Linked DNA regions of Homo sapiens. The protein of the gene in region 6 interacts with the protein of the main gene of each other region in a biochemical or structural test. Each region holds a gene or a part of one and is shown on either strand. Other genes may lie near its edges.

The links.
Region 1: the proteins of ERBB3 (region 6) and GRB7 form a complex in vitro, tested with the Homo sapiens proteins (2 studies listed by BioGRID and IntAct, with this or other methods).
Region 2: the proteins of ERBB3 (region 6) and LCK form a complex in vitro, tested with the Homo sapiens proteins (one large-scale study listed by BioGRID).
Region 3: the proteins of ERBB3 (region 6) and FER form a complex in vitro, tested with the Homo sapiens proteins (2 studies listed by BioGRID and IntAct, with this or other methods).
Region 4: the proteins of ERBB3 (region 6) and TXK form a complex in vitro, tested with the Homo sapiens proteins (2 studies listed by BioGRID and IntAct, with this or other methods).
Region 5: the proteins of ERBB3 (region 6) and SH2B3 form a complex in vitro, tested with the Homo sapiens proteins (2 studies listed by BioGRID and IntAct, with this or other methods).
Region 7: the proteins of ERBB3 (region 6) and SYK form a complex in vitro, tested with the Homo sapiens proteins (2 studies listed by BioGRID and IntAct, with this or other methods).

What each region holds. Positions count from the first base shown.
Region 1 is NC_000017.11:39,740,938-39,744,361, forward strand, and holds part of GRB7 (growth factor receptor-bound protein 7), read left to right. Parts: intron 1-1,314; coding exon of another isoform or gene 1,315-1,364; coding exon 1,365-1,519; intron 1,520-1,628; coding exon 1,629-1,779; intron 1,780-1,960; coding exon 1,961-2,117; intron 2,118-2,242; coding exon 2,243-2,364; intron 2,365-2,455; coding exon 2,456-2,533; intron 2,534-3,132; coding exon 3,133-3,270; intron 3,271-3,424. UniProt on the Homo sapiens protein: Adapter protein that interacts with the cytoplasmic domain of numerous receptor kinases and modulates down-stream signaling. Promotes activation of down-stream protein kinases, including STAT3, AKT1, MAPK1 and/or MAPK3. Promotes activation of HRAS.
Region 2 is NC_000001.11:32,268,265-32,271,764, forward strand, and holds part of LCK (tyrosine-protein kinase Lck), read left to right. Parts: intron 1-3,500. UniProt on the Homo sapiens protein: Non-receptor tyrosine-protein kinase that plays an essential role in the selection and maturation of developing T-cells in the thymus and in the function of mature T-cells. Plays a key role in T-cell antigen receptor (TCR)-linked signal transduction pathways.
Region 3 is NC_000005.10:108,750,897-108,754,396, forward strand, and holds part of FER (tyrosine-protein kinase Fer), read left to right. Parts: intron 1-3,500. UniProt on the Homo sapiens protein: Tyrosine-protein kinase that acts downstream of cell surface receptors for growth factors and plays a role in the regulation of the actin cytoskeleton, microtubule assembly, lamellipodia formation, cell adhesion, cell migration and chemotaxis.
Region 4 is NC_000004.12:48,113,751-48,117,250, forward strand, and holds part of TXK (tyrosine-protein kinase TXK), read right to left. Parts: intron 653-3,500; coding exon 598-652; intron 591-597; exon of another isoform or gene 1-590. UniProt on the Homo sapiens protein: Non-receptor tyrosine kinase that plays a redundant role with ITK in regulation of the adaptive immune response. Regulates the development, function and differentiation of conventional T-cells and nonconventional NKT-cells.
Region 5 is NC_000012.12:111,419,423-111,422,922, forward strand, and holds part of SH2B3 (SH2B adapter protein 3), read left to right. Parts: intron 1-986; exon of another isoform or gene 987-1,066; intron 1,067-3,500. UniProt on the Homo sapiens protein: Links T-cell receptor activation signal to phospholipase C-gamma-1, GRB2 and phosphatidylinositol 3-kinase.
Region 6 is NC_000012.12:56,086,665-56,090,164, forward strand, and holds part of ERBB3 (receptor tyrosine-protein kinase erbB-3 isoform 1 precursor), read left to right. Parts: intron 1-912; coding exon 913-978; intron 979-1,130; coding exon 1,131-1,249; intron 1,250-1,356; coding exon 1,357-1,498; intron 1,499-1,878; coding exon 1,879-1,992; intron 1,993-2,083; coding exon 2,084-2,204; intron 2,205-3,500. UniProt on the Homo sapiens protein: Tyrosine-protein kinase that plays an essential role as cell surface receptor for neuregulins.
Region 7 is NC_000009.12:90,874,819-90,878,318, reverse strand, and holds part of SYK (tyrosine-protein kinase SYK), read right to left. Parts: coding exon 3,470-3,500; intron 749-3,469; coding exon 539-748; intron 1-538. UniProt on the Homo sapiens protein: Non-receptor tyrosine kinase which mediates signal transduction downstream of a variety of transmembrane receptors including classical immunoreceptors like the B-cell receptor (BCR).

The DNA.
Region 1 (3,424 bases), on a different chromosome or scaffold from region 6:
AGTGTTTGGAGAACAGGCTGGGGGCTGGGATTGCAGGTTCTCCCAGGTCTCAGCCCGGCCAAAGGGGTCTGCTGGGTTCCTGCGGAGAAGGTGCCAGCCCCACCTCCACCTCTAGTGCTCGTCTTTGCCTGCTGTCCTGTCTTTACTTGTCTTGAGTGTCTGTGCAGCCCCTATAAGTGATAAGACATGGGTGAGATTGGCCTTGCCTGGGGGTACCAGGTGCCCTCAGACAAATGGGTGGATAGGACAGGTGCACAGTAATGGATGATGCGGCCCCCGCACAGTGCTGAGAGAGAGTCATTCAGTCTGAATGTGGAAGGCCAGGAAGGCTTCTCAGAGGAGGTGGCTCTAGCACTGGGGCTTCAGGAAAGAGTTGGGCAGGAGGATGGCCTGGGGAGGGTACGCAAGGTTTGGGGGCTGCTGGGGCCAGGACCCCTACCCCAGGCCCTGCTCTCCCCCTTGCACTGCAGCGGAGCCCGCTCTCCTGCCTTTCTGACTCCCATCCTTCCCCACCTCCTTCTCCCCTCTGCATCACTCATCACTTGGGCAGGCCAAACCTCGCCAAGTATGAACAGGCTCTGGCAACTGGGTCTGGCAACAAAGTGCTGGAAAAACCCGGGGCACAGCCCAGCGCAGTGAGTGCCCCACACGTGGAGGCAAAGGAGTGGGCCTTTGCCCTGACCCTGAGGGCTGAGCCTGAGAGTCTGTGGGTTGTGAAATCTGTTGTGACCACCAGGCTTGTGGTGGGTGGACCCTCAGCTCTTCCTGTGAGCAACTTTGTGCTAAAGAAAGAGCACTGGAGCCGGGCGTGGTGGCTTACGCCTGTAATCCCAGCACTTTGGGAGGCCAAGGCGGGCGGATCAGGAGTTCAAGACCAGCCTGGCCAACATGGTGAAACCCTGTCTCTACTAAAAATACAAAAATTAGACGGGCGTGGTGGTGGGCACCTGTAATCCCAGTTACTCGGGAGGTTAAGGCACGAGAATTACTTGAACCCAGGAGGTGGAGGTTGCAGTGAGTGGAGATGACGCCGCTGCAAAAAAAAAAAAAAAAAAGGAGAAAAAAAACAGAAAGAGCACTGGACTTGGAGTCTAAACACAGGTTCTACTCCCGACTCACCTGTGACTGAGGGCAAGAATGCTTTCTTCTCAGAGACTCGGTGTCCCCTTTTGTAAAATGAGGCTCATTCTGTCCTTCCCCAAGGGCTTCAGGGAAACTCCAGTTAGAGCAGTGAGGTGCTAGGTAAACTCTGAGGGGCACCCTAACCGCCGTGTGAGGTCAGGAGGTCTGAATTCTCTCATCCCCTCTCCCCAGGACAAGGGCACACAACTGGTTCCGTTAAGCCCCTCTCTTGCTCAGACGCCATGGAGCTGGATCTGTCTCCACCTCATCTTAGCAGCTCTCCGGAAGACCTTTGCCCAGCCCCTGGGACCCCTCCTGGGACTCCCCGGCCCCCTGATACCCCTCTGCCTGAGGAGGTAAAGAGGTCCCAGCCTCTCCTCATCCCAACCACCGGCAGGTACGATGGGGCGTGGGGCTTGGGGGAGGTCAGTGCTGGATAATACACAGAGGCTTGCAGGCCACTGCTCCCTTCCCCACACCTCTCTCCCTTTTTCTTCTTGCCACAGGAAACTTCGAGAGGAGGAGAGGCGTGCCACCTCCCTCCCCTCTATCCCCAACCCCTTCCCTGAGCTCTGCAGTCCTCCCTCACAGAGCCCAATTCTCGGGGGCCCCTCCAGTGCAAGGGGGCTGCTCCCCCGCGATGCCAGCCGCCCCCATGTGAGTTGTCCCTCAGAAGGGAAGGGAGGGATGCACGGGTTCTGGGTCTGTGGGAGATACACAGCCGCTTCCATGGAGGCAGGGGATCTTGGTTAGGAGTCCCTGAGGGTCTAGCAGGTGCGGAAAGGGAATGAATCACCCTTTGCCTCCCCTCAAGTCGTGTGCAATTCCTGGGGCGCAGGTAGTAAAGGTGTACAGTGAGGATGGGGCCTGCAGGTCTGTGGAGGTGGCAGCAGGTGCCACAGCTCGCCACGTGTGTGAAATGCTGGTGCAGCGAGCTCACGCCTTGAGCGACGAGACCTGGGGGCTGGTGGAGTGCCACCCCCACCTAGCACTGGGTAAGTCAGGTGCATGGAACTATCCGGGCTGGGAGATGATGCCTTGCATCTTGGGCTAGGCATGTGGCTCATCCAGGAGATCTGGTTGATCTCCAATAACCCCTGCTTTTTGCCCTTGTCCCCAGAGCGGGGTTTGGAGGACCACGAGTCCGTGGTGGAAGTGCAGGCTGCCTGGCCCGTGGGCGGAGATAGCCGCTTCGTCTTCCGGAAAAACTTCGCCAAGTACGAACTGTTCAAGAGCTCCCCAGTGAGTGCATGAGGGCTGTCTGGGCGCTGGGATGCCCTGATCCTCAACCTGGATGCTGGAGCCCTGATCCCTGACACTTGTCTACCCACAGCACTCCCTGTTCCCAGAAAAAATGGTCTCCAGCTGTCTCGATGCACACACTGGTATATCCCATGAAGACCTCATCCAGGTGGGGGGACCCCCCATTTCACTGCAGATTCACGACTCCCCAGCATTGGCCAGTGCTTCTCCACCCTTAAGTCCTGTGCCTCCCCTCTATGTTGTAGAAAGAGCCAAATCACAGTCCTGTGTGACTGGGGACAGTCACTTTCCCTGCCTGAGCATCAGTTTCTTCTATTAAATGGGGGCGAGAAATGCATGTGGAGCATTTCCTTGTAAAAACCTGAGGGTGGGCTGGGCACGGTGGCTCATGCCTATAATCCCAGCACTTTGGGAGGCTGAGGCGGGAGGATTACTTAAGCCTAGAAGTTTGAGAGTTTGAGACCAGCCTGGGCAACATAATGAGACCTCGTCTCTCCAAAAAAAAAAAAAAAAAAAAAAAAAAGGCCAGGAATGGTGGCATGAGCCTGTAGTCCCAGGTGCTTGGGAGGCTGAGGTGGGAGGATCACTTGAGCTCGGGAGGTCGAGGTTGCAGTGAGCTGTGATCGTGCCACCGCACTAGCATGAGACCCTGTCTCAAAAAGAAAAAGAAAAAGAGAAACATCCTGGTGGTAGAGGGGAAGGGAGGAGGTCAGACCTGTCACTCTCCTCTGCTCTCCTCTGGCTCAGAACTTCCTGAATGCTGGCAGCTTTCCTGAGATCCAGGGCTTTCTGCAGCTGCGGGGTTCAGGACGGAAGCTTTGGAAACGCTTTTTCTGCTTCTTGCGCCGATCTGGCCTCTATTACTCCACCAAGGGCACCTCTAAGGTAAGGTCTTGAGGGTACCAGCCCCAGCCCCTCCAGTCCCTGGTCCTTTTAGAAGTTGCCCCTTCTCTGCTGGAACCTCTGAGCCCTTCTCCCCCTGGGCCCCCCAGGCCAGCCACCTCCAGTTTACCATCTCTCCCTACATCCTTGCCTAGCT
Region 2 (3,500 bases), on a different chromosome or scaffold from region 6:
TATGTTGGGCTTCTTTTCAAAACTTAAAAAAATTTATTATTATTATTCATTTATTTATTTACTTTAGACAAGGGGTCTTGTTCTGTCACCCAGGCTGGAGTGCAGTGGTGCAATCGTAGCTCACTGTGGCCTTGAACTCCTGGGCTCAAGTGATCCTCCTGCCTCAGCCTCCCAAGCACCTGGGATTATAGGCATGCACCACCATGCCCAGCTAGTTTTTATAATAATAATAATAATAAGAGGCTTGCTTGAGGTGATGGATAGCTCATTTATCCCTTTTGTGATTATTACACATTGTATGCCTCTATCAAAATATATCATGTACCCCATAAACATATATACTTACCAGATACCCATAAAAGTAAATAAATAAATAAGTAAATAAATAAATATACAAAATTAGCCGGGCGTGGTGGCACATGCCTGTAATCCCAGCTACTTGGGAGACTGAGGTAGGAGAATCGCTTGAACCTGGGAGGCAGAGGTTGCGGTGGGCCGAGATCGTGCCATTGCACTCCAGCTTGGGCAACAAGAGCAAAACTCCGTCTCAAAAAAAAAAAAAAAAGAAAAGAAAAGAAACAGGAGTCTAGGGCTGGGCACAGTGGCTCATTGCCTGTAATCCCAGCACTTTGGGAGGCTGAGGTCAGGAGTTCGAGACCAGCCTGGCCAACGTGGCAAAACTCTGTCTCTACTAAAAATACAAAACACAAAATACAAAAATTAGCCAGGCGTGGTGGTGCACGCCTGTAGTCCCACCTGCTTAGGGAGGCTGAGGGAGGAGAGACAGAGCTTGCAGTGAGCCCAGATCACACCACTGCACTCCAGCCTGGGCAACAGAGCAAGTCTAAAAAAAAAAAAAAAAGGAAAGAGAGAAAAGAAACAGGAGTCTAGGCTGGGCATGGTGGTTCACGCCTGTAATCCCAGCACTTTGGGAGGCTGAGGTGGGTGGATCACTTGAGGTCAGGAGTTCAAGACCACCCTGGCCAACATGGTGAAACCCCCATCTCTACTAAAATTACAAAAATTAGCTGGGCGTGGTGACACATGCCTGTAGTCCTAGCTAGTCAGGGGGCTGAGGCAGGAGAATCACTTGAACCTGGGAGGTGGAGGTTCCAGTGAGCCAAGTTCACACCACTGAACTCCAGCCTAGGTGACAGAGTGAGATTCTGTCTGTTTTTTTTTCTTTTGAGATGGTATCTTGCTCTGTCACCTAGGCTAGAGTGCAATGGCGTGGTCTCAGCTCACTGCAACCTCCACCTCCATGGTTCAAGCAATTCTCCTGCCTCAGCCTCCCAAGAAGCTGGGATTACAGGCGCGCACCACCACGCCCAGCTAATTTTTGTATTTTTAGTAGAGACAGGGTTTCACCATGTTGGCCAGGCTTGTCTCGAACTCCTGACCATGTGATTTGCCCTCCTCAGCCTCCCAAAGTGCTGGGATTACAGGCATGAGCCACCGCGCCCAGCCGAGACTCTATTAAAAAAAGAAAAAAGAAAGAAACAGGAGTCTAAAGCAAAGGAGATTAATTACCCAGTCCCATTCTTCCACCTTCCAAAGCAGGAGTTGGTAGGACAGAATTGTGCACTGGTGAAAGTGTTTCTAAGCACTAAACTAAGCTAACATTCATGTGAGCTTATGAGAAATGGATGAAGAGCCCCATTTGACAGAAGAGGAAAAGTGAGGCTTAGGAGGAATGATTTCAGCAAAGTCACACAGTAAGTGTCAAAATTGCTATTTGAACTTAGGTCTCTAACTATGGGGACAGTCTTCTGAGTTTTGCTAATGAGAAACTTCCACTGCTCCCTGCTTCCACTTAGACCCAGCATGAATTCTCTCTCTCTGTCTCTCTTTTGTTTTTTCTTTTTAGACAGAGTCTCTGTCACCCAAGTTGGAGTGAACAGTGCGGTGGCAGTGGCAGGATCTAGGCTCACTGCAACCTCCACCTCTTGAGTTCAAGCAATTCTCCAGCCACCATGCCCAGCTAACTTTTTTTTTTTTTTTTTTTTTGTATTTTTAGTAGAGACAGGGTTTCACCATTGTTGGCCAGGCTGGTTGTCTTGAACTTCTGACCCCAGGTGATCCACCCACCTTGGCCTCCCAAAGTGCTGGGATTACAAGCATGAGCCACCGTGCCCAGCCTGCTCTTTTGAGATGGAGTCTCGCTCTGTCATCCAGGCTGGAGTGCAGTGGCTTGATCTCGGCTCACTGCAACCTCTGCCTCCCGGGTTCAAGTGATTCTCCTGCCTCAGCCTCCTGAGTAGCTGGGATTACAGGCGTGTGCCACCATGCCTGGCTAATTTTTGTATTTTTAGTAGACACGGGGTTTCACCATGTTGGTCAGGCTGGTCTTGAACACCTGACCTCGTGATCCACCCGCCTCAGCCTCCCAAAGTGCTGGGATTACAGGAATGAGCCATCGTGCCCGGACTTTTTTTTTTTTTTTTTTTTTTTTTTGAGACGGACGGAATCTCACTCTGTTGCCAGGCTGGAGTGCAATGGCGCAATTCCGGCTCACTGCAACCTCTACCTCCTGGGTTTAAGCGATTCTCCTGCCTCAGCCTCCTGAGTAGCTGAGATTACAGGCACCTGCCACCAAGCCCGATTAATTTTTGGATTTTTAGTAGAGGCAGGGTTGCACCATGTTGGCCAGGATGGTCTCGATCCCTTAATCTTGTGACCCACCCGCCTTGGCCTCCCAAAGTGCTGGGATTACAGGTGTGAGCCACCGCGCCTGGCCTTTTTTTTTTTTTTTTTGAGACAGGCTCTCGCTCTGTTATCCAGGCTGGAGTGCAGTGGCACAATCGTAGCTCATTGCAGCCTTGAGCTCCTGGGCTCAAGTGATCTTTTTGCCTCAGCCTCCCAAGTAGCTGGAACTACAGGCATGCCCCATCACACCTGGCTAATTTTTTGATTTTTTTTCTAGAGATGAGGTCTCACTATGTTGCCCAGGCTAGTCTGGAACTTCTGAGTTTGAATGGTCTTACTGCCTCAGTCTCCCAAAGTGCCGCGATTACAGATGTGAGCCACCACGCCCGGCCAGCAACTCCAGCTTTGCTCTACTCCAAATAGGTTGTGTGACTTTAAGCATACCTCTGTGGGCCTCAGTTTGCTCATCTAAAATCAGAGGTTTAGCCAGGTATGGCAGCTCATGCCTGTAATCCCAGCACTTTGGGAGGCCAAGAAGGAAGGATCACTTGAAGCCAAGAATTTGAGACCAGTCCGGGCAACATAGCAATACCCCCATCTCTAGAACAAATAAAAAATCACCTGGGCTCAGTGGTGCCAGCTACCCAGGAGGCTGAAGTTAGAGGATCACTTGAGCCCAGGAGTTTGAGGTTCCAGTGAGTTAGGATTGGGTCATTGCACTGCAGTCTGGGCAAGAGAGTGACACTTTATCTCAAAAATAAATCAACAAATAATAAAATTGGAGATTAGGCTTGCTGGTTTCTAAGACCTTTGCAGATGGGAGACTCTATGCATTAACACTGCATGTTCCAGTT
Region 3 (3,500 bases), on a different chromosome or scaffold from region 6:
AAACCAGCGTATGTGGCCGGGCGCGGTGGCTCATGCCTGTAATCCCAGCACTTTGGGAGGCCGAGGCGGGCGGATCACCTGAGGTCGGGAGTTCGAGACCAGCCTGACCAAAATGGAGAAACATGGTCTCTAATAAAAATACAAAATTAGCCGGGCATGGTGGTGCATGCCTGTAATCCCAGCTACTCGGGAGGCTGAGGCAGGAGAACCGCTTGAACCCGTGAGGCGGAGGTTGTGGTGAGTGGAGATCACACCATTGCACTCCAGCCTAGGTAACAAGACCGAAACTCCATCTCAGAAAAACAAAAAACAAACAAACAAAAAAACCACAAAAAGCCCAGCATATGTATATACATGTATATGTAGTATACATGTATATACACACCACCAAATTATAAGGTGCTTATTTTTGTTTGTGAGTGGGAATTGTACTTACTAAAACTATACTAACTTAATTACATGAGACTATTCAAAGCAATCTTGTGAGTGAGGTAGGAAGTCATCATCTTTGTAATCAAGGCCCAAATAAGTAAACTGCATTTTGGTAATCAGACAAAAGGAAATCTGATGAACTTGTTATACAAAAAAACGTTTTGCTTCAAAATTGGACTCCTGTGTAAATAGATTATAGTTTTGTACTTGATTTATAAATAAACATCTTTTGGAGGGAAGTCCAAGGGACTATCAATTATGTAAAATTTTGGTAACTTGATAAATTGGGTCAATCTTATGTCTGTTCATTTGGAATAAGAATGTATTTTTGTAATGGAAAAAGCTTACAAAGGTGAACTTTTTTTAGTAGAACTGCTTCATGGAGACTGACGTAATTAGAGAAATTTAAGTCAGTATTTCGATAGGACTCAACGATCTTGGGTGTTGTCTCATGGTTCTGAGGAATATTTTGATATAAAACTTCAATTTATAGTAAAGGAATAAGTGGAAATGGGTATAAATTCACACATTTGTATATTTGTAATTTTTCTATACCCGAGAAATTTGTGTACACCTTTTTAAGTATTTGAATCTTGCTTTTTAGTTTTTGCATACCCTAAATCTGTTTTTCATACTTACCTCGTTCATATAGTAATTTCTTAAATATTAAGGGCTATGTCTCAGAATTTATAGATCTCTGGATTGCTTTATTACTATTTTTCCAAATTTCATTTGTCTTTGGTATGCTTATGTATGGTTAACCTATCATGCTATTGAGAGACTGAAGGAAACAATTAGGTCACAGTTTTAGAACTTTAGTTGTAGATTCAGTGAACTCAGAAACAATTGGATTTTTTAAAATCAAGGCTCCAATTTTCCCTTCCCTCCCTTCCTCCTTCCCTTTTTTTACTCCTTTTCTTTCTTATTTTTGTTTGATTATAAATGTTAAATGCCTTACAATCAATTCAGAAAACTATAGAGAAGAAAATGAAGTCACTCATCATTCTACCATAATGATTTGAAAACTAACAAACTTTGATTTCTTCTGTAACACTCTACCAATTATTGAGATTTTATGGTTTTCATTTCAGTGTATCTGCATTCACATCAAAATTTGTAAGAGTTCCTGAACTTGAGGCTGTTACCTTAAATTAGAAGAGGGCTCCTAGATCTGGGGGAAAAATGGAAAAGAATAAATAGAGGACAGATTAGAGTCAGAACAGAGGAATTAGACCCAAGCAGTTACTGTTTCTTATTCTGTAAGTATAAATATTTTAGTTTACCATATAAAACTGCTGTATGGCTGACAAAATATGAGGCCATATTTTTTCTTTGGAATTCAAAGTATCTAGGTAAAACAAAGTTTTCTTGGTTCTTTTCAAGAAATAGTTCAGATTTCTTCATTTTTGGAGGATATTACATAATTCAGCTTTAAAAATTTAATGTCATGCATGTTTGGAATTATTTTAAAAATATTCATATCAGACAATTACTAATTTTTATTCATCATCACCATTCATTATAAACTTGATATTGTCACTTTTTTTAGTAGGTATTAAAAGACTGGACATTTTATGTAGGTTTTCCTTGCTAGGTTTCAAAGTGTAGTGAAAAGAGGAGCCATTTATTTTAGAGTCAGATAATCGGGTTTTAGTTCCAGTTTCTGTTCTGTGGGATCTTGGACAAGTTATTTTATCTCTTTAAGTCATAATTTTCTCATCTATTCAATAGGGATAGTAAAATTGCTTCACTAGCTTGTTACATAGAAGAAATGAGACAATGTAGGTAAGATTTAGGAAGTATTAAACTGACTTTAGGAAGTATTCAGCTTCTGTATTCAGTTCTTTATGTGATAACATTGATTTTATCTCTCCTTGTATTAATGTGTTTATTATACCATCCACAAAGTCCTTGTTTCAGACATAAGAAATTAAAATATAATTAAATTTACTTAAATTTAAATTTACAATAAATTTACTTAAGTTGAATGACATTTGCATTTATACAAATAAATAGTTAGAAATATCTCAGATTAGCTGTTCTTTTTATAAATCTTAGCTTATTGTATCTCAGCAGGGATAATTATAAATTTACTTTAAATGATTTTTAACTCCAAAATATCTCCAGTTTGTCTGGATTCCTGATTTATTTTTCTTTTTGCCTAGATGATCATGTGTTTTTGGATGGTTGCCCTAAATTCCTTTCATTTAAACCACAGGTATTAGCTACACGTTACTGTCTTAAATCTCTAACTAGTGCCCCCGCAAACACATTTTCTCAATCTGTTTAAAATTTAAACTTCATTTTTAAATTTAATAATACCCTTATTTGTATATTAGTTGTGTCTTTTCCACCTCCTACTGAAACGTATGATTATTTTTTAAGGAGCAGTATTTTACAGATATCCCTGTTTCAGATTGTGTGTTCTGTAAATACAGGGTTCTAATTCTTAAAGAACATACAGTTTAAATGGGCAGACCAGCCTATGGTTATTCTGTGTAGAGAAGCAAGCACTGAACTGACTTAGCAGTTGAACTAGAGTCCATATGGTCTCATCCAGCAGTAAAACAGATTTTTGTGATCCAAGTCAGTTTTCTTATATTTTTTCCCGTCCAGGTACAAGATATTTACATGTATGACATATTCCACTGTGCAGTTTTCTAGCATGCGAGCTCTAATTCAGTCTCTCTCCTATTCAAGAAAGCATATTAGAATGCAGATGATTGAGAGTGACATCATTATGGGTATAAACTTGAATCTACTCTGATTTATTGGAGAAAGTGAGTCATTAAAAAATGTGGGCTGGGTGCAGTGGCTCATGCCTGTAATCACAGTATTTTGGGAGGCTGAAACGAGAGGATCACTTGAGCCTAGAAGTTTGAGAGCAGCCTGGGTAACATAACGAGACGGCACTCTACAAAAAAGTTAAAAAATTAGCCCGATATGATGGCATGTGCTTGTACTACTACTAAGGTGGCTAAGGCAGGAGGATTCCTTGAGCCCAGGAGTTCAATACTGCATTGAGCTATGATTGCAGCACTGTGCTTCGGCCTGGGCAACAGAGTGAG
Region 4 (3,500 bases), on a different chromosome or scaffold from region 6:
TGGCCTTGGGTAAGCAATGTAACCTCTCTAATCTTCAATTTCCTCATCTGTAAAATGGGGATCATAAAAAAAAAAAGTAGGTGGTTTTGAGAACTGTATGAGTTAATAAACATAAATCTTTTAGCATAGTATCTGATATACAGGAAGCTCCTGTTAAATGTTAGCTTTTTCTGTTAACATGCTGCCTTGGATTTAATTCTTACAGAGTCATTTACTGCCACCAAAGTATAAGATACACCGGTAGTTTTGGGGAGATAGATAACTAAGATAGGATTCTTGCCCTTAAAGGGAAAAAATACGTATTGGAGCACAGACCTATAAACAACATACATGAAATAAAAATTAAGTGGAGAACAATGCCGCACACGGTGGGAATGCAATGGAATGAACAATGAAATCTAAAGGATCAGGAAAGGATCCCAGATGACCTGACATTTGACCTAGACCTGTAAACAAATAGGCATTCCACAGGGAGAAAATGGGAGAAGGTTCCCAGGTAGAGAGAACAGCGGGTGCAAAGAGACATGGTGACTCCACAGGTAATAAAGAAACGGAATTAATTAATTTTCAAGAAATTGCCCTCGGAAGTAGACTTACCGCTTCTGCACTGAACAGCAACAGCAGCAACAGAAAACCGACTGGATGGTGTTATCTGAAAAGCAGATCATTTCTCAGCTGTTAGAAAGCCATGAGTACGTGATATTGAGGGAGTCTCTAAGGGAAGGGTGAGACGAATTATTATAAAGCGTATGAAAGTCTCGATCGTGCCTTCCTTCACTAGTGGAAGACAAATAACTGTCACTAAAGCAAAAAATAAGTTTCTGGCACCTTGGCCAGTGTGGTTTCCCTTCTCAGGCTCTTCTCCTCTGGCCTGGTTTTTGCATTTCCTCAGTCTGTGAGTGATAAATGACCAGTGTATTCTCTTTTACCTTTGTCAGGGCTAATGTTCGCTAACAAATATACAAGAGAATAGGATTCCAGAAGTGATGCTCTCCTAGGAAATCTGTTAGCAGGGATTTTGAATTAGATCTGTCATATTTTTTTAAATTGAAATGTTTAAAACATAGGCTCTTTTTAAAAATTCCATCAACATTTCAGTGGGATTTTTATTCTTTTACGTATTTATTGTAATTAAAAATTGTTCTAAACCTTAGCTGCATGTTAGAATTATCTGAGGAGCTTTAAAAAAAATATTCTGGTGTACAGGTCATACCCTGCATACCCCAGACCAAAAAAATTAGACTGTCTGGGGAGGAATCTAGGTATTGGTATTTCTTTCTTTCTTTTTTTTTTTAATTTTACTTTAAGTTCTGGGATACATGTGCAGAACAAGCAGGTTTGTTACATAGATATATATGTGCCATGGTAGTTTGCTGCACCTATCAAACCATCATCTAGATTTTAAGCCCCGCATGCATTAGGTATTTGTCCTAATGCTCTCCCTCCCCTTGCCCTCCACCCCACAACAGGCCCTGGTGTGTGATGTTCCCCTCTCTGTGTCCATATATTCTCATTGTTCAACTCCCACTTATGAGTGAGAATATGCAGTGTTGGGCTTTCTGTTCCTGTGTTAGTTTGCTGAGAATGATGGCTTCCAGCTTCATCCATGTCCCTGCAAAGGACATGAACTCATTCGTTTTTATGGCTGCATAGTATTCCATAAAACATAGGCTCTTACTATGGAATAAGCTTAAAGATAAACTGAATATTTGAAGAAAGAACTAGCTAGTAAGTCTAGGTTATGCCTAGACTTTCATTGTCAAGCTTCATCTTTATTGAAGTGAGATGATTTTCCTTTTTAAAGACCATAAATAAGCCAAGGGTGGTGGCTCATGCCGCTAATCCCAGCACCTTGGGAGGCCGAAGCAGGCAGATCGCTTGAGCCCAGGAGTTCGAGATCAGCCTGGGCAACATGGCAGAACCCCATGTCTACCCCAAAAAACTTTTTAAAAAAATTAGCCAGGCATGGTGGTGCATGCCTGTAGTCTTCAATACTCAGGAGGCTGAGGTGGGAGGATCCCTTGAGCCTGGGAGATGGAGGCTGCAGTGAGCTGAGATTGCACCACTGCACTCCAGCCCTGGTGACAGAGTGAGACTCTGTCAAAAAAAAAACATAAATAAATTTTGAATTTCAAAAGGATATTTTATTTTCATAGAACCTACATTTCCCCATCAGCTCATACTCATATTGACATCCGAAAATATTCTGGAGGCAGCAGAGTACCTTAGAGGTGAGCATTCACTTTGAGGGGAGACAGACCTGGGGTTTAGCCCTAGTCACCTGGCTGACTACATCTTGGATAAGTCCCTTTACTTCTCTAAGTCTTAGTTTTTCTAACTGTAAAACTGAGGTAAATAGTATGTACTCCCTTTGAGAAGCCCTATAAATGTCTAACTTTGTGACTTTGAGTAAACTAGTAAATGTTCTGTGCTTTAGTTTCCTCGTCTGTAAAATGGGAATAATAGGATGCCTAACATGTAAGCCAACGGTGAGGACTAATTGAGTCGATTCATGTAAAACTCCTAGACCAATACCAGGTATACAGTAAGAGGGTAATCAAGAAGGCTGATTATAATAGGATCGTGGTGAAGAATCAATCAGATAACATCTTTTAAAGTCCCTGGATCATAAAGGTAAGTATTATCAGTCAGGATCCCAACAAGAATCAGAAGGCACACTCAAACTGGGATATGTTGAGAAGGATTTATTTATAAAAGGAAGTATAGAGATGTAGGCAGAGTGTAGTAAAACTACAAGGATAGTGCAGGAATCCAGAGCTGAGCCATCACCACACCTAACCAAGTGAGGAGGGAAGGGAAGGTTACCAGAACCTAGAAGGAGAGGGTATCTGTGGCCCAGGCCACCTGGAAAAGAGCATGTATCATCCATCCAAGGACACAGACTGCCCAAGGAGACTTCACAGCAAGAAAATCAGGAGGATAAATATCCTTACTCCACTGTCCTCCCTCCCTCCTTGCTGGGCTCTCCATTGGCCTAACCCAGCAGGAAGCCAGATGGTTGTATGTAAATCACACAGCAGCAAACAGCAGGCTGGTGAAAGGCAGAGAGTGGACCGGCAGGGAGAGAGGCAGACAGGAAACATCCAGCACAGTCCACCCCTCAGCATCCATTTTTTGTTTCTTTTTTTTCAGACAGAGTCTCACTGCGTCGGCCAGGCTGGAGTGCAGTGGTGCTATCTTGGTTCACTGCAACCTCCTCTACCTCCCAGGTTCAAGTGATTCTCCTGCCTCAGCCTCCTGAGTAGCTGGGATTACAGGCATGTGCCACCACACCCAGCTAATTTTTTGTAGTTTTTAGTAGAGATGGGATTTCACCATGTTGGCCAGCCTAGTCTCGGACTCCTGACCTCAAGTCATCCGCCCAACCTGGCCTCCCAAAGTGCTGGGATTACAGTTATGAGTCACCGCGCTCGGCCCATCCTAAAGTGGAAATCATATATGCCCTCTTCCATTATCCATTCCATTTCCCCTTTGCCACT
Region 5 (3,500 bases), about 55 Mb from region 6:
GGCCAGGGGTTCAAGACCAGTCTGGCCAACATAGTGAAACCCTGTCTCTACTAAAAATATAAAAAATTAGCTGAGCACAGTGGCGCACGCCTGTAATCCCGGCTACTTGGGAGGCTGAGTCAGGAGAATCACTTGAACCTGGGAGGGAAAGTTACAGTGAACTAAGATTGCACCACTGTATTCCAGCCTTGGTGACAGAGTGAGACTCTGTCTCAAAAAAAAAAAAAATGTTTAGACTTACAGGAAAGTTGCAAAGATAGTAGTGTTCCTTTACACATGGTACCCAGCTTCACCGAAGGTTCACATCTTACGCTGCTGTGTACATTGGTTGTAGCTAAGGAACCAGCACGGGTACATCACTATTAGCTAAACGCCACTGTTCCTTTGGCTTTGCCAGTTTTCCTCTAATGTCCCTTTTCTGTTCCAGCTCGCCCCCCAGGATACCACATGAGGTTTAGTCGTTACGTCTCCTTAGGCGCCTCTTGGCTGTAACAGTTTCCAACCCTCTATTGCTGATAGCCTTGGCAGTTTTGAGGAGTACCAGTCAAGGATTTTGTACAATGTCCAGGGACACCTTTTTGCCTTCACATTTGGGTGTCATGTGGGCTGGTAGCAGGTCACTCTGAGATCCTTGAAAACTCTGACTCAGACTGGCATTGACAGATTGGTGTTTTATTTCCAGAGGGCTCAAAACCTTCAGAGAATTTCTCTGCACCTCCTGTGCCTTGGTGATATTTTGCAAGTTAAAAAGAATTTGTCCTTTGGCAAAACCCCATTGCTACAAAAAATACCAAAATTAGCTGGGCGTGGTGGTGTACGCCTGTGGTCCCAGCTACTCTGGAGGCTATGGTGGGAAGATCGCTTGAGCCCAGAAGACCAAGGCTGCAGTAAGCCAAGATCGCACCACAGCACTACAGCCTGGGTGACAGAGCGAGACCCTGTCTCAAAAAAAAAAAAAAAAAAAAAAAAGTTCTTTTCCTTCACAGCTGGCTTAATTCCTACTGTGCTGTTGAGGCTGAAAGGTCACTGTGTTCTACTCACCTGCCAGGCTCCATCTTTGACTCAGGTATGCATGACAGGACCATATGGCTTTCATCTAATTGCTCTCTCTTTGGGATCCTGTTACGTGGTAGGGCCTTACTCTAGAGCATGAGCAAAACCGATGTGATACTGGCCCTGAGGGGCTCACGATGTGGGTGGAGGAAACCTATGGTTACTCTTTCATTCATTCGACAGATATTTATGGAGCACCTACTATGTGTTAGGCACATGCTAGGTTCTGGGGGACCAGGCGGGCCTAGTGGAGGCTGTTGAGGAAATAAACCCACAGATGAGCATGGAATTAAAAATGGTAAATTGTGTTCTAAAACTGGTAAACTGTGTTCTAAAGGAAAAGCAATGGGGTCTCTGGGAGGATAACTGAGGGGTCCCGGTTTGGCGGTTTGGGAGAGTCATCCAAGAATCCTTTGAAGTAACGTTTTCAAACTGACTGTGGCGTAACATGCAGACCTGGAAGTGCGTGAAGTATGAGACACATCTGAAGCTCTGTGTTTCCGTGTGTGTGCAACGCAAGTGACCAGCACCCCAGAGGGCTCCTTCATGCCTCCCCCAGGCCAGTGCCCTGTACCCCCATACATACCACCTCTTATCACCACAGGTTCGATTTCTCTGTTCTTGAACATCATGTGAATGGAATCACACAGTAGGTTGCCTTTGTTTTATTTTATTATTTTATTTTGAGACAGGGTCTCACTGTGTCACCTAGGCTGGAGTGCAGTGGTGTGATCATGGCTCGCTGTAGCCTCAACCTCCCAGCCTCAGGTTATTTTTGTGCCTCAGCCTCCCCAGTAGCTGGGATCACCGTCACGTGCCACCACTCCCAGCTAATAAATAGGTTGCCTTTTATTTCTGGCTCCTTTTGCCCAGCATAATGTTTTAGAGATTGATCACATTGATCGTACATGTCAATAGTGTCTTCCTTTTTTTTTTTTTTTTTTTTTTTTTTGAGACAAGGTCTCGCTCTGTCACCCAGCTGGAGTGCAGTGGCTCGATCTCAGCTTACTGCATCCTCTGCCTCTTGTCCTCCTGGGCTCAAGCAGTCCTCCCACCTCAGCCTCCCGAGTAACTGGGACCACAGGCACGTGCCACCACACCTGGCTAATTTTTGTATTTTTTGTGGAGATGGGATTTCACCATGTTGTCAAGGCTGGTCTCGAACTCCTGGGCTCAAATGGTCCCCCCACTTCGGCCTCCCAAAGTGCTATGATTACTGGCATGAGCCACCACGCCCAGCCGGGTTTGTTTCTTTTGAGTACTGAATAGATTCCATTGCACAGCTGTCTCCATGTCCCACAACTGGTTTATCCCATCCTCTGTTGATGAATATTTGGGTTGTTTCTATTTTGATTTATGAATAAGGCTGTTATGAAGTTTGCATCTAAGTCTAAATATGGACACACATCCTTTCATTTCTCTCAGGTGGATTCCTAGAAGTGGCATTGCTCAGTCATAGAGTAGGTACATGTTTACTTTAGAGAAATTGCCAGACTTTTCCCAAAGCAGCTGCACCATTTTGTGTCCCACCGGCAGTGGGCGAGAGTTCCGGGTGGTTCCACTTCCCCACCAACACTTGAGCACTTGGTGGGTTTTTTTGTGTTTTGTTTTGTTTTTGTTTTGAGACGGAGTCTCGCTCTGTTGCCCAGGCTGGAGTGCAGAGGCACAATCTCGGCTCACTGCAACCTCCGTCTCCTGGGTTCAAGCTGATTCTCCTGCCTTAGCCTCCCAAATAGCTGGGATTATAGGCGCGTGCCACCACACCCAGCTGATTTTTGTATTTTTAGTAGAAATGGGGTTTCACCATGTTAGCCAGGCACTTGGTGTTAAGAGTCACCGGTGGCTGCGTTCCTGGATCTCAAGGTGGCTTTACTTTGCGTTTCCCTGATGACTCATGGAGGTTAAGCACCTTTTCATATGTTGATTGGTCATCGGAATTTGGTCGTTTGTGAAGTACATGTTTTTATTGTCTGTCTAGCCTTTTTTAAATTGATTTGTAAAAGTCGTTATATATTTTGGACAATTTCTTTGCGTTTTAAAAGTCATTTCCTACCTTTATGGCCTGGCTTTTCATGAAAAGCAGTTTTGTTTTTTTTTTTTCTTGAGATGGAGTCTCACTCTGTTGCCCAGGCTGGAGTGCAGTGGCGCAATCTCGGCTCACTGCAACCTCTGCCTCCTGGGTTCAAGTGATTCTCCTGCCTCAGCCTCCCGAGTAGCTGGGATTACAGGCGCATGCTACCACGCCTGGCTAATTTTTTGTATTTTTAGTAGAGATGGGTTTTCGCCATGTTGGCCAGGCTGGTCTTGAACTCCTGACCTCGTGATCCACCTGCCTCAGCCTCCCAAAGTACTGGGATTACAGGCGTGAGCTACCTCACCTGGCCTCAATTTTTGTATTTTTAGTAGAGATGGGGTTTCACCATGTTGGCCAGGCTGGTCTTGAACTC
Region 6 (3,500 bases):
CCGTGATCAAGATTGCTCCCCAGTCCCACCAAACCAGAGTGACTCCCTTCTTTCCATCATCCTTACATTCCTGATCTGAACCCGCCTCCCCAGTGAACAAACACCTCAGGTCCCTGACTCAGCAGCCCACCAGGGCAGACCATTCCAGTCTCCTGGAATCTAAACCACAGAGGAGGTGTTTCAAGAAAAGGAGCAGGCCGAGCATGGTGGCTCATGCCTATAATCCTGGCACTTTGGGAAGCCAAGGTGGGAGGATCGCTTGAGCCCAGGAGTCCAAGACCAGCCTGAGTAACATAGCAAAAAATCTACAAAAAATTAAAAAAATCAGACAGGCGTAGTGGCTCGCACCTGTAATCCCGGCTACTCAGGAGGCTGAGGCAGAGGATTGCTTGAGCCCAGGAGGCTGCAGCTGCAGTGAGCTGTGATTGTGCCATTGTACTCTAGCCTGGGCAACAGAGTGAGACCCTGTCTCAAAAAAAAAAAAAAAAAATCCCTGAGTACTAAGCAGGGAAGCCAGATCTTTAGACTCCACATCTGTTACTCGTTCCACTAGAATATACTCCCATTTCCTTGGAGCCCACCTTCCCCTGACCATTCACATGCATATATTCCTGCATATATTCAGTTTGCCCAGGAGGAACTAAGTTCCTGGGTTGGGACTAGGACTAAGGTTGGCATTTGCCCCAGTCCCTCCCCTTCAGCTGCCCAGTGGGTGGTGTGGAGGCGTGGCCGCGCCCCTTGTTGACAGGTCCACTTGAGCCCAGCCCTGCTCTCCAAGGGCAGGGAGGGACACAGCCCTGGCTTTTTGCTTCCCGGGATTGAGGTGCCTGTGTACTGACATCATACCCCGTTGATTAAAACAAGCCTTTCTTAGCCCTGATGGCCCCTTGTGTTGCCTTCCTTCCCAACCAGGTCCCCCCTGTCATGAGGTTTGCAAGGGGCGATGCTGGGGTCCTGGATCAGAAGACTGCCAGACATGTGGGTTTGAAATTCCCTCCAAAAACTTCACTCATACGCTTTCATATCCCTTCCTCCCCAAGCCTGGGTCAACACTGTGGGGGAGGCATGAGCAGTGGCCTCAGAATTCAGTCCTAGGAGCCCTAACAGCCATGCTTTCTCTCCTTCCATAGTGACCAAGACCATCTGTGCTCCTCAGTGTAATGGTCACTGCTTTGGGCCCAACCCCAACCAGTGCTGCCATGATGAGTGTGCCGGGGGCTGCTCAGGCCCTCAGGACACAGACTGCTTTGTATGTACCCTTTCCATTGCCTGGGTTCTGAAATTGGGATGTGGCCTTTGAGGAGGAGGTAGGGGTACACACGTAACATAAATCTGATGAGCCTCCTTTTTTCCCAGGCCTGCCGGCACTTCAATGACAGTGGAGCCTGTGTACCTCGCTGTCCACAGCCTCTTGTCTACAACAAGCTAACTTTCCAGCTGGAACCCAATCCCCACACCAAGTATCAGTATGGAGGAGTTTGTGTAGCCAGCTGTCCCCGTAAGTGTCTGAGGGGAAGGAACAATGATCAACAATAGTAGATCCAAGATTTTAGACAAAATTGTGGAAGGGAAAAAGAATCCAGTTGGTGATAAATAGGGAGATTGGTGAATGGTTATGATCATCTAACCACTCCAGTGAGTGACCCTTACGTCCAGTCCTCCCATGACTTCAGCTATCACCCTTACTTCTGCTCCTTGTAGCAACAAATAGTGAAGAGACTTTTGAATCTATAGGGCAGCACTTAAGGGATCTAGGGTGGCAGATGGGGACAAATCCAGTGCAGAGCTGGAGGGAGCCTAGGCCCAGAGCAAGGGTTCCATTGGTAGCTGGTGATGTTCCTCCCTCATCTCTAATGGTGTCCTCCTCCTCTTCCCTAGATAACTTTGTGGTGGATCAAACATCCTGTGTCAGGGCCTGTCCTCCTGACAAGATGGAAGTAGATAAAAATGGGCTCAAGATGTGTGAGCCTTGTGGGGGACTATGTCCCAAAGGTGGGTAGGAGATGGTAAGAAGTTGTAAAGAGACAGCCTTTCCTCTGAGCCTGCGCAGACCACCCCCACTGAACCTCTCTTACATTTGCAGCCTGTGAGGGAACAGGCTCTGGGAGCCGCTTCCAGACTGTGGACTCGAGCAACATTGATGGATTTGTGAACTGCACCAAGATCCTGGGCAACCTGGACTTTCTGATCACCGGCCTCAATGGGTTAGAGATCCTGCCTTCCCTCCTTAGACCCCAGCCCACGCACCCCTCACAGTTCATTTCATTGGCCAAAACTTTCCTATGTGGAGCTGACTAGGAATCAAAGTCATAAAATTCTAGCCTGTTACAAAGGACCTGAAAGAATGCTTAACACATCCTCCATCCAGGCCTTCGGTCCCCTCAGGAACATCTTTGAGCAATTCAATATCGCCCTGCCAAGGAACAAGGGACAGGAACAACATATCCTCCTTCTTAAAGTTTTCTTTTTTATTCTTTTTTCTTTTTTGAGATAGGGTCTTGCTCTGTCACCTAGGCTGGAGTGCAGTGGCGTGATCTCGACTCACTGTAGCCTCGACCTCCTGGGCTCAAGTGATCCCAAGTAGCTGGGACTATAGGCACACACCATCATACTTGACTAATTTTTTTGTATTTTTTTGTAGAGACAGGGTCTTGCTATGTTGCCCAGGCTGATCTCGAACTCCTGTGCTCAAGCAATCCTCCCATCTTGGCCTCCCAAAGTGCTAGGGATCACAGCACCCAACCTCCTTCTTAAAGTTTTGTAAAAGTTCTTCCTTAGATTTGGATAAAAATCTGTCTCCAGGCTGGGCCCGGTGGCTCATGCCTATAATCCCAGCACTTTGGGAGGCCGAGGTGGGCGGATTACGAGGTCAGATCGAGACCATCCTGGCTAACATGGTGAAATGCCATCTCTACTAAAAACACAAAAATTAGCTGGGTGTGGTGGTGCACATGCCTGTAATCCCAGCTACTCAGGAGGCTGAGGCACGAGAATCACTTGAACCCAGGAGGCGGAAATTGCAGTGAACCGAGATTACACCACCGCACTCCAGCCTGGCGACAGAGCGAGACTCTTTCTCAAAAAAAAAAAAGAAAAGAAAAGAAAATTCTGTCTCCCCATGACTTTTAGCTGTTTTCACTCATTCTGCTCCTTGGAGCAAAAAGAACAAAGGGACTTTCTAGTCTATAGGACAGCATTTAAAATGTGTGTGTGTGTGTAAAAAAAACCCACTATGACCACCTGTTTTTTTTTTTCCTTTAATTTTTTATTTTGACATAATTTTAGATCTACACTAAAGTTGCAAGAATGGTATAAAATTCCCCATATACTTTTTTTTTTTTTTTAAGACAAAGTCTCACTCTGTTCCCCAGGCTAGAGTGCAGTGGTGCAATCTTGGCTCACTGCAACCTCCGCCTCCTCTGCCTCCCGGGTTCAAGCAATTCTCCTGCCTCAGTCTCCTGAGTAGCTGGAATTATAGGTGTGTGCCATCATGCCCGGCT
Region 7 (3,500 bases), on a different chromosome or scaffold from region 6:
ATCATTCTGTCTTACTCCAAGTGAGTTTCTTCATCTCAACAACAGCTTTAGATGAGAAGAACACAATTACTCCCTTGATGGATGTAATCAATTAGCAGTGATTGGTATTTTCAGAAGTCATCACTCATGAGAACATAAGGTCAGCCAAACAGATAAGACTTAACTGTCACCTCTTAGAAAAGCATTTATTTAAAATGTTTCTTTAAAAAGAAAGTGTTCTTCCCAGTGAGAAAGGAGATTCCATGTCAAGATATTCTGAGGCTGAGTCTATCACTAGGCCAAGACTGAATGACTACAGGAAGAAAAAAAAGACAAAACTGTCAAATGAGTTCTTCTCTGAACAACTAGAGCTAACAGAGCTGAATCCAAAGACTATGTCTCCCTGTCCCTCTGTCAAGGTCCCTGAGTATGGACCAATAAAGGAAGGCACAGGAGGGTGGGAAGGCTTCCCAAGGAAATCAGGCTGCTCGGCCCATCCAGGGGTGGGCCCTGTCCCTTAGGGGATAGCTTCCAGATGTGTGGGGGCACCTGACAATACCTGTTCTGCTGCAAATACTTATTGAGGGGACCAAGTTCTGCCATCTCCATAACCAGCATCCAGGACTCGGCCTCGCATATCCCGATCATCCGCACGATGTACGGGTTGTCCAGCTGCTGCATGACATTTGCTTCTGCTAATAACTCATCTTTAAGAGCGGGGTCATTGGCCTCGTTTTTCAGTATTTTCACAGCCACGGTTTTCACAACTCTGCAAGAGAAATCATAACACACAAGAAACTTTCCAAAATGCCTCACTTCTAGATAATCTTATCCTGTGAAGCATAATCCCCCTGTGGAAACAGTCCCACGGAAATACCTGCCACAGAGTGGCAATGTGTCTTCAGAAGCCTGTAATGGATGGCTGGCCTTCCAACCTATATTCCCTTATTTTATAGACAATGAGAGTAATACTCCATTACTAAAAAAGAATGGTGGGGGCTGGGCATGGTGGCTCATGCTGACAATCCCCATACTTTGGGAGGTTGAAAGGGGAGGATTGCTTGAGGTCAGAAGTTCAAGGTCAGCCTGGGCAACATAGTGAGACCCCCATCTCTAAAAAAAATCACCCAGGTGTGACAGTGCAAGCCTGTAGTCCCAGCTGCTCGGGAGGCTGAGGTGGGAGAATCACTTGGACTCAGGAGTTCAAGGCTGCAGTGAGCTTCTTGCCACTTCACTCCAGCCTGGGTGACACAGTGAAACACTGTTTCTAAAAAATAATATAAAATAAAAAGAATGGTGAAGAACAGTACTGAAGAATGTCCCAACCAAGCAAAAACCCTAAACTGTAAAATATTTAAATAACTTGTAAATAAACTTCACCAACGATGACATGTACGAATTCCTGTAACATCTTGGGATTCACCATCTCAGATTACATGTAATGAATGTGAATATAAAATGCCTTTCATAATTGTTGAAAGTGAATTTCTAGGTGCAGAATTTAAAAGCATATATTTCAATGTAATACATTGAAAAGGTAAACAACTCTCCTGAGAGAGGCTGAAGAAGACCTGGTAAATGGAGAGATGGGCTGTGTTTATAGATTGAAAGACTCAGTATTGTAAAGACATCATTTTGCCCCAAATTGACCGAGAGAGCCTCTCCTCTCCCCAAATTCTCTAGTTGAAATTATGTCCACAGTCATGTCTATGTTAATTCACAAATTTAAGCACAGAATAAAGATCACAACCTTTCATAATCTGAAAAAGCTTAGGATTAATACAGAAACATTTTTACTCATTGTACAAAATGACTGTGATATACAAACATATATTTTAAAATAAGTATCACAGCCAATTTTGATTGTGTGTGTATATATGTGCGCATGTATATACTTGTGAATGTATACATATGTGTGTATGTTTGTGTGTGTATACATACATGTATGTGTATCTAATTTACACACACACACATGCACAAAAACAAATCGAAGGGACAGATTGGAAAGCAAGCATTTCTTTTTTCTTTCTTTCTTTTTTTTTTTTTTTTTTTGAGGCAGAGTTTCACTCTTGTTGCCCAGGCTGGAGTGCAATGGTGTGATCTTGGCTGGCTGCAACCTCTTCCTCCCAGGTTCAAGTGATTCTCCTGCCTCAGCCTCCTAAGTAGTTGGGACTACAGGTGTATGCCACCACACCCAGCTAATTTTTTGTATTTTTAGTGGAGACGAGGTTTTACCATGTTGGCCAGGATGGTCTTGAACTCCAGACCTCAGGTGATCCACCTACCTTGGCCTCCCAAAGTGCTGGGATTATAGGCATGAGCCACGGCACCCGGCCGGAAAGCACGCATGTCTGTGTATATTTTTGTCTATATTTTTAACCCTTGAATCATAAAAATTACCTACTCACGAATTTTTTTTTTACAAAAATCCCTTACATTTGAAATACCATGAAGCTACTAAATCTAACCACATTCATATTAGTATCATACCAATTCAAACAGAGGGTGTATTTCAAAGGACTTTAGAAACCAGTAGTTTTACTTGTACATTCTATGTTGGGTACCTTCTAAAGACCAAAAGAAATACAAAGATATTTTCGAAATTTAGCAATTTTAACTGTTGTATAATATGTATTGTTATCTGAAATCATAGGATAAAGCCAATAAATAATTATACTAATCATATTTGGAATCAATAATTTTCATGTAAGAAAAATGAGATGTAACTATAAAATTAAAGAAAATAAATGTAAAAACTATTGTTATAATGGAATGATTTTGTTTTAATTAAATAATATCTGTGTGTACAAATAAAGATCTAAAAATATATACAATAAGATTAAGTTAACAGTAGTAATGTTTAGTTAACAGTAGTAGTGTTGGGATGGTATTATACAAATATGATGTTCTTCTTTTCTTTTTTTTGTTTTGTTTTTTGAAACAGGGCCTTGCTTTGTTACCCAGGCTAGAGTGCAGTGGTGCAATCATGGCTCACTGCAGCCTTGGCTTCTTGGCCTCTTGAGCAGCTGGAAGTATATGTGTGCACTACTATGTCTGGCTAATTTTTTATGTTTTATTTATTTATTTATTTATTTATTTTTTTTGTAGAGACAGGGTCTTGCTATGTTGCCCAGGCTGGTCTCAAGCTCCAGGCCTCAAACAATCCTCCTATCCCAGCCTCCCAAATTGCTAAGATTACAGGCATGAGCCACCATGCCAATTTGATGTTTTTATTTTCTTATGTTTCTGCTTGTTTCTATTTCCTAATTTTCCATAAGGTGCATGTACTATTAGGTTGGTGCAAAAGTAATTGCAGTTTTTGCCATTAAAGGTAATGGACGCTTTCATTATAATAGTACCAGAAATTAACAAGAATGGTAGCATTAATAAAAAAAGGGTTTAGTCATGCCAGGTTACATTTTGTTATTCTCAGTCATGTCTAGAACCTGAGCTCATGTGAGGGTGAGGCTGGTGGAACATAGCAACTTACTTTTTCATTTGGTAGTAGCCCTTTTTCACAG